2 linked regions of the Homo sapiens genome follow. The protein of the gene in region 2 purifies or fractionates together with the protein of the main gene of each other region. This does not show direct contact. Each region holds a gene or a part of one and is shown on either strand. Other genes may lie near its edges.

Region 1 (5,303 bases), on a different chromosome or scaffold from region 2:
CGTCCATGCTCTTCCTTTTCCCACCCCACATCTCCACTTGTCAAAATCCCACACAGACTTTAAAACCAGCCTAAATGCTCTCCCTTTCAGGAACCCTTTCTTGATTCCTTTTTCCCAACATCCCCTCCAAAGATAAGTTATCTTTCCTTTTGTGAATGCCCAGCGCACATTTCTAACCTCTCTCATGATGCTTATAACTCTCTTCCTTATATTGTAACTATTTATTAATGTTTATCTTGTCTTTCCCATTAGTCCTTGAGGGAAAAGGCTATTCAGCCAACTTTGTGTTTTTGTTTTTTGTTTTTGTTTTTGTTTTTTGAGATGGAGCACCCAGGCTAGAGCGCAATGACGCGATCTCAGCTCACTACAACCTCTGCCTCCCAGGTTCAAACAATTCTTCTGCCTCAGCCTCCCGAGTAGCTGGGATTACAGGCGCCTGCCACCACACCCAGATAATTTTTGTACTTTTGGTAGAGACAGGGTTTTGCTGTTAGCCAAGCTGGTCTCAAACTCCTGACCTCAAGCAATCTGCCCACCTCAGCCTTCCAAAGTGCTGGAATTACAGGTGGAAGCACTGCACCCGGCCAGTGTTTAGCCAACTTTGGATCCGTCTACAGTTCCTTGAATAGATTAGGTGATCAATAAAAGTTTGTTGCATTGAGTTGGTACAGACAGTAACCTTCACCTTTCTATTGTAAATTCAGCCTACTTCTTCTTCAGTAGAGATGGAAGGTGGCTATGACCTATGGCTTCAGTGTCCACCTACTCATCCTATTTCTTCCCCTTCCCTCCAGGGGGAAAAAAATTACAGCCAGTGACTTCAAAGTGGGACCTTTATTCAAGACAGAGGTGAAATCTGTGCTGTAGTGAAAGTGCCATCGAAGGCACTGAGTAAGGGTCTAGAGCTCAGTGCACCACTCAGGCATCCCTGGAAAATAGTCTTCAAGAATTCGGTGATGTCACTACAGGGCCCAAGGCTCAGAGACAGATAAGCTTTGGGGGAACAGAAAGAAACAAACTGAGGTGGCATTAGGGAAGAGGTATTCCAGGAGTGTGGAGTGGGCAGGGGTGCCAAGGACAGCAGACACTCACAACTTCTCACAAAGCCACTGTTCCAGCTTCTCAGTGCAGAGGGCTTTATGGGCCAACCTGATAATGGAGAAGGGGGACAAGGTGAGTTAGCTGACTGAATCTTTACATTCATTCCCAGGAGGGCTGAAGTGGAAGAGCGTGGACGAGAATTACAGAAAGACATTCCTGGCCTGATGTCAAGCGACACAAGCCATCAAGTGGAATACAGTCCATAAAAAATATCCAAGAAAATTGTAGGGTTAAAAAAGAGATGCAATGTTACCAACAGCTTGCTTTAGGGCATAGAACTAAACAAGTGGAATTAGATGTCCAAGTCTAAGTGAAAGGAGGCCTGGGTCTGAGCCCTCCATTAGGCAACCCCTTATTAGGAAAATTGCTACCAAGGAGCGGAGCGAGAGAGGCTTAATAACAGAAACCTGAGTCTCTAGGTAAGCTTTGTTTCAGACACTGTATTCTAGATTAAATGACCAAGAGATAGGGTAAGAGGAAAGGGGTGCTGGGCTAATGGGGTAAGGAGAAGGAGGATGGGGAAATAGAAAATAGAATAAGGATTCACCAGTAGTCAATTCCTTTAATATCCAGGATCTTCTTGGCACACATTATGTCATCAGTAATGTCATCATCCAGGAACTCTGGCAGGAGTTACAGGGAAAGGATTGAGACAGCTGACAAGTATTACCCAGAAAGGCACTGAGTTCCCCTAACCCCTGGATCCAGTGGGTTCTCTAAACTCAAGGCTTGTGCCTGTTGTCTTTCTATATGAAAGGACCAATGTGGTAATGTCTAACCCTGGGTAGGGACTTCCTTCATTTCCCTGGGATATCTCTGGAGGAATCATCAGCTTCATCAACTGACTTACCCTGAAAATGCAGACAATCAGATTCCAAGACTCTCAGACAGCTCCGATTGTCTACCACTGAACCTCAAGGAACTGTCTGGGGATTTGATGACCATGAAAAATCCAAACAGCTTCTTACTCAGTACTGCCAATTCAAGTCCCACAATTTTTATAGAGCCCAGCCAAGGCAATGAAGCCTGAGGTCTGCTTGGCACTAAAAAGGAGATTATCCCAAGGGCAGGCCTCAGAAAAACAGAGAAAGAGGGTTATAGGGGCTACTCACTGTCACAGGAGATGTCACAGATGTTCCTTGACTGAGGGACCTGGCTGCTCTTGCACCAAAGCTTATTACTGATCTGGAAGAGTCCATATTCCGTGCTTTCATTGTTTTCAACTATGGCTTGTGTGTCATAACCACTGGTGTGAAACATGGTACAGATCACTGAGGGAAAGATGAGAAAGAGATACCACAGAGATGTACAGGATCTGCATAAAGGAGGAACTGTAATTCTCAGACAAAAATGCTTTCCAGCCAATCTCCAAAGATGGCAAAGCTCAGAGTTTCTTGATGAGATGGAGAATTCCAAAAAAAAATCAGACAATAAGAGAAAGAAAGGATAGGAAAATAAATGGGGCCAGGCATGATGGCTCACGCTTGTAATCCCAACACTTTGGGAGGCTGAGGAGGGCGGATCACCTGAGGTCAGAAGTTTGAGACCAGCCTGGCCAACATGGTGAAACCCTGTCTCTACAAAAAATACAAAATTAGCCAGGCATGGTGGTGGGTGCCTGTAATTCCAGCTACTTGGGAGGCTGAGGCAGGAGAATCACTTGAACCGAGGAGGCGGAGGTTGCAGTGAGCCGAGATTACACCATTGCACTCCAGTCTGGGCAACAAGAGCGAAACTCCACCTCAAAAATAAATAAATACATACATATATACATACATGAAATAAAAGAGTATGCAAATGAGCAGAAAAGAGGATGATTAGATAATTAAGTAAAAGTGGAGGGGCGAAGTGGAAGAAAGAGGGGATGGAGGAGAGAAGCGTATGAGGAATGGATGAAACACAGAGGCAGGGAACTCACATTCAGGCAAAGCGATGCCTCCATAACCATCTATGTCTTTCAGCAGCTGGGACAGCTCACATTTTGTGAATTGCTTGGCCAGGATGGCAGGGAACAGGATGCCCACCAGGAACAGAGGGACAAAGAACCTCATTTTGGCTACCCCCAAGAACCTGAAATGGAAGCATCACTCAGTTTCATTTATTTATATTCATGCAGAAAGCCTCAGGGGCTCTGGTACCAAGCCCTACATCTAGGAAGAGAATGAAGAGAGACTGGTCATGCCAAGACAGAAACGCTGAGCCTGCCAGCTTCCTTCCATAATTCACCCTACTTTTCCTTTCCCTCTCCCAGTATCTAGTCCATAGCAGGTATTGTTCTCTGGCCAGAAAGAGTTCAAACCATGATCCTGCTTCCCATTTGGCTTTGTTTAGCCCTTTGTTTCTTGTAGGGTTGGTTCTGGGAAGCACTGTCTCTGGTTACTTGAGGAACAAAGAAGGGCATGGGGGCAATATAAGAAGTGAGGCAATCAGAAAATACAATAAAGTTCTATACCGAGCTTCCCCCTTCCCCCCTAGAGACATGCAGAATGTGGAGAGGGGGTGTATGTCATCACATGCCACAGTCCCAGGATCAGAGCTGGCACTTGTCCAACCAATCCAGCCATGTAACAAGGCCCAGAATTAGTTCTTTAATATGGTAGCTCATGACTGAAGGCTCAGAAATAGGAATAGAATATGGGAACGTAGACTACAACAATCCGATATAACTTGGATCTTAAGACTTCCTACTTAAGGAAAATGCATAATTGAAAAGCCTGTATGAAAGCATCTAGGCCAGGCACAGTGGCTCACACCTGTAATCCCGGCATTTTGGGAGGCCGAGTCTGGTGGATCACTTGAGCCCAGGAGCTCGAGACCAGCCTGGGCAACATGGTAAAATCCCATCTCTACAAAAAAAATTAGCTGGGCATGGTGACATGTGCCTGTAGTCCCAGCTACTTGAGGGGCTGAGGCAGGAGGAACACTTGAGCACAGGAGGTCGAGGCTGCAGTGAGCCATGTTCACTCCACTGCACTCCATCCATCCTGGGAGACAAAGTGAGACCCTATCTTTAAAAAAAAAAAAAAAAAAAAAGAATCTAGCTATCCTACGAGCTATTATCAGATTCCCCACCCCTAACCACTCCTACCGTAAATAACCAAATACTACACTGGCATTGAGACATTACATAAATCTAAGACCAATAACTTGTAGACAACCTCAGAGTTGGCCACAGAAAGTGGGAAGGACCCAAGCCAGTGGAAAGATTGGACTTTAAGGCTGAACAAGCTTATGTCTGGAATCTCTATAAGGTCAGTGCCCCTGAGCAAGTAGAGTTGAGGATACTAGTTCTGAATAGCTCCTTTAATTTGCTGGCATGAAGCTTCATGTCATGGTGACAAGTAGCTCTTAGCTCCTTCATGCCACCATTCGTCTTCTTTGTCCTCATCTCTAAACCTGATTTCTTCTTCTTCTTCCTTTTTTTTTTTTTTTTTTGACCAAGTCTCACTCTGTTGCCCAGGCTGGAATGCAGTGGCGCGATCTTGGCTCACTGCAACCTCTGCCTCCCAGGCTCAAGTGATTCTCCTGCCTCAGCCTCCCGAGTAGCTGGGACTACAGGCACGTGTTACCATGCCCGGTTAATTTATGTATTTTTAGTAGAGACGGAGTTTCTGCATGTTGGCCAGGCTGGTCTCAAACTTCTGAGCTCAGGCAATTTGCCTGCCTGGGCCTCGGCCTCCCAAAGTGCTAGGATTACAGACAGGAGCCGCTGCGCTGTTTCTTATGTTTCAGGGAACATTTATCCCAACCAATCTATTTAAGACTTACATACTGAAGGTCTTCCATATCGTTATCTCCTACATGTATTCAGAGTCAGGGAAAAGTCCTCTCAGTTAAATCCTGTCTTCTGTACCATGGATAACCAGTATATGAAGTGGCATGAGTGAAGGGAATGTGGAGGATCTTGGTGTGCCAGAAGGGATGAGCAGAAAGTTCTGATAGCAAGAGATACATGTTCAGAAACACAACAGAAGTGGAGCCACTCCATTTCTCCGCATTCCACCCAGAGGCACTGCAAGGGTACACGACAGGAATGGGAATTCTATCACTCTAAGCTTTGTTGAGAATATGGCTGAGAGTGACCTTGAACCATGTGTGAGAGGGAAAGATAAGAAAAGCTAGTCCTGAGGACTAGTCCTTCCAATAGTGGAGTCTTGTGTAAAATGCCTCCTGCCCTAGGCTATTGACTAAGTACCTGTGAT
Region 2 (3,433 bases):
GATGGAATGAGGCACAAGGATGCTTTCCGCATGCCCGTGCCCCTCTGGGTGTGCCAGTCTTTTTCATTTGTCCGGCTGCCTTTCTTCTCGCACAGAGCTACGAACACAGTAGGTGTTCAGTTAATCTTTGTAAACTAACTTTAGCCAAGATGCCTTAGGCCGTGGTGACATCTGTCTCTTCTCTTTGTCCCTAAGGCCTGCTCAACTGGAGGAGCTTGCCAGAAAATCTTTTAGAGCTCTTCTGGGAATCAGAGTGAAGGACCGACTGCCAGGCATAACCTAGTTTCCTAATGAAGAAGAATAGGAATAATTTCGAACAGGACCCTCCCTGGTAGAGGTGAACCTACCCACAGAAATGAGCCCGTTTGTTTAAAGTCACACACTATGTCAGGGGTCAAACAATCGGGCCTGGCCAGTGCAAGGTCTGTCTCCTTCTTCCCTTCTGTAGAGTGGTGAGGGGGCCCAGCAAGGCTGCCCAGACCCCTTACCGTGTACATGCAGCTCTCAATGACAGCAGGCTCGGGCTTCAGATCAGGTAAGTGATCTCTGACAAAGCTGCTCAGGATCTGGACGTCTCCGATGTCTGTGCGTGCTGTGGGGCAGTCCCGCTCCTCAGGGTCTGCGTGGTTGCCGTGGTGATAGCTGACCTGGCTCCCAATCAGAGTGGCATGAGTGGTGAGGGCTGGCCTTCCACACACACCCACAGCCGAAGGGCAGGCGTGTACACAGGACAGCCCCATCCATCATTCCAGCCTTCCCCACTCCTGGCAGGTGCTGTGGGCTGTCACCTGAGGCTGCTTAGCTGTTGGTCCCTGCAACCACCCTATGTTTGCAAAGGAAGGGCTCCTTTTGCTGGGCCTCAGGGCAGCTGAGGGTCTTTCCTTGCAAATCGCCATGAGTGAAGCAGGCTCCTGCTGCTGGCCCCGAGACCCAAGGGCATCTATGGAGGGGAAAGTTAGAGCAGCTTCCCCTAATCTGCACTGGCATCTACCTGCCTTATCTCGGTCTTTCCGCTCACCTTCATCAGCCCTGGGTACTCTCCTGTGGGCAGTCCGTAGATGTGGTGGGGACACAAGCCCAGCCACAGGAAGCACGGAAAGGCCTGGGACACACCATAGCTCCCAGGAACCATCTCTCGCCAGTAACACACGTTGATCCGCAGGGTCTTGAGGCAGGGAGAGGAAGTGGGAAATGAAGAAAAGCCATGGAACTCTACAGCAATGAAAGCAGTTTCTCTGGGCCCCTGCGGCCCTCTAACACAAGCCTGGACACCCAGTTGAACTCATCCATGTTTGTCTCTCCCACTTCTCATGTTGTTTACCTGTTACATGTGTTATGATGCACAAACATCTCTGAGCCTCTGTCTCTTCTCCCATTCTTAGTTTTCTCCCATAACTACACCCAGCCCCCAGCCATATTTCTGTCTCTTTTCGGGAATTAATAAGACCTCAGGTTTATTGAGTGCTTACTATAAGCCAGGTTATGTCCTAAGGGCTTTATTTTTATTTTATTTTATTTTATTTTATTGAGACAGGGTCTTGCTCTGTCACCCAGACTGGAATGCAGTGGTAGAATCACGACTCATTGCAGCCTCAACCTCCTGGGCTCAGGCCAGCCTCCTGGGCTCAGCCTCCCAAGTAGCTGGGACTACAAGCACACGCCACTACACCTGGCTAATTTTTCTTAGTTTTTGTAGAAACAGGGTCTCGCCATATTGCCCAGGCTGGTCTTGAACTCCTGGGCTCAAGAAATTCTCCTGCTTTGGTCTTCCAGAGTGCTGGAATTACAGGTGTCAGCCACCACATCCGGCCTCTTAAAGGCTTTATATACAGCATATATTAGGTTAGTGCAAAAGTAATTGTGGTTTTTGCCATGACTTTGAACGGTAAAACTGCAATTACTTTTGCACCAGCCTAATAATTTAATTCTCCAACAGCCCTATGAGGTAGCTATCATCCCCCATATTACAGATGATAAAACTGAGGCTCGGTGAGGTGAATGAATGTGCCCAAGGTTGTCCACTAGCAAGAGGCAGATCCAGGACTCAAATTTGACTCCATCTGGTTCCAAGGCTTCTCTTGAGCACCAACTCTCGGGCTTCCAGCTCCTCTTACCTGGAGAGGCATCTCAATGCCCAGGGGACGGAGGAGCTGGTTGGTCCAAGGACCTGCTGTGATGACCAAGCTCTTAGCTTGGTAGCTCCTGGAGGTGGTTTTCACCGTGACCAGTAGCCCTGGGTTTATCTCCACCACCTTCTCTCCGTCACGCACTATGCCTCCTAGCTGTCGAATTGCATCCTGAAAGGGCAGGAGCAGGGAAAGGTGAATTAGTTCTGTATGTGGTTCACCCTGGTGGACAGAAAGCCTTTTGCCTGGGGCAGAAAAGAGTGCAGAATCTAGACCTGTCCTGTATTGACAAGGCCAGCCGCATATATTTCACTGCCCTGCTGGAAAAGTCAAGACTAAAGCCTGCAGGGCAAAGGCCTCATCCAGAGGGGGGTCTTGGGCTGGCTGCTTGGGACCCAGGACACCCAGAGCAGGGAGCACCTGCATCGCCCCAGTGCTATACGACATTACCTGCAGGGCTCTGAGGGCCTTATATGCATAGATAACTCCTCCGGAATTGTCCAAGAGCCCCACTTCTCCCCTGGGCAACCGAATATTTGGGAAACGTTGCTTCAGTTCCTCAGATGAAAGACACTGGTGTTCTACCCTCTGCCTCGACAGATTGGCCTGGATTGTCTTTAATTCTTGATTCTCTTTCATTCCCAGCAGCAGTAATCCAGTCTGCCTGTTAAAAAATAAGTCACCTAGGTGAAGGTGTGTTTCAAAATCCTGGGCCTGATGTGACGACTCACGCCTGTAATCCCAGCACTTCAGGAGGCTGAGGCAGGAGGATGACTTGAGGCCACTAATTTGTTCACTAGCAGCCTGGGCAATATCATGAGACCCTGTCTCTGCAAAAAGTAAAAAATTTTTAAAAAGTAGCCAAGCATGGTGTCACATGCCTGTGATCCCAGCTATTTGGGAGGCTGAGGTGAGAGGATCACTTTAGCCAGGGAGGTCAGGGTTGCAGTGAGCCATGATTGCACCACTGCACTCCAGCCTGGATGAGAGAGCAAGCCCCTGTCTCAAAGCAAAACAAAGCAAAGCCCTGGGCCATTTGCTCTCCTTCAGGAGGGATCTCGGGTCCAGGTGTAGGCCCTGAGAGGAGTCATGGCCTCATGTTCAGAGAAGAGGTGAAGCCATCTAGATTCAGTCGGTAGAATCCCAGTATTCTCATGCTGATTTCCAGCCCATTCCCAAGTCTGCCCTTGGGCTCTCACTATTGGTTTTCTTGTCCTCTATGCCCCTTCTCAGGACCCATCCTGCCCTTGAGGGCAGAGATCCTAAGTCCTCTTTCATGTCCCATGGCTTGGAAGTGGTGGAAGTTC

What was found. Proteins that work in one complex are often made in the same cells at the same time.
Region 1: the proteins of PIPOX (region 2) and LALBA purify together in Homo sapiens (affinity purification with mass spectrometry; one large-scale study listed by BioGRID and IntAct). This does not show direct contact.

Annotation. Positions count from the first base shown.
Region 1 is NC_000012.12:48,566,869-48,572,171, forward strand, and holds LALBA (alpha-lactalbumin precursor), read right to left. Parts: upstream 3,179-5,303; 5' UTR 3,153-3,178; coding exon 3,020-3,152; intron 2,373-3,019; coding exon 2,214-2,372; intron 1,725-2,213; coding exon 1,649-1,724; intron 1,150-1,648; coding exon 1,089-1,149; 3' UTR 816-1,088; downstream 1-815. UniProt on the Homo sapiens protein: Regulatory subunit of lactose synthase, changes the substrate specificity of galactosyltransferase in the mammary gland making glucose a good acceptor substrate for this enzyme. This enables LS to synthesize lactose, the major carbohydrate component of milk.
Region 2 is NC_000017.11:29,052,277-29,055,709, reverse strand, and holds part of PIPOX (peroxisomal sarcosine oxidase), read right to left. Parts: intron 2,791-3,433; coding exon 2,577-2,790; intron 2,298-2,576; coding exon 2,115-2,297; intron 1,166-2,114; coding exon 1,019-1,165; intron 648-1,018; coding exon 489-647; intron 1-488. UniProt on the Homo sapiens protein: Metabolizes sarcosine and L-pipecolic acid.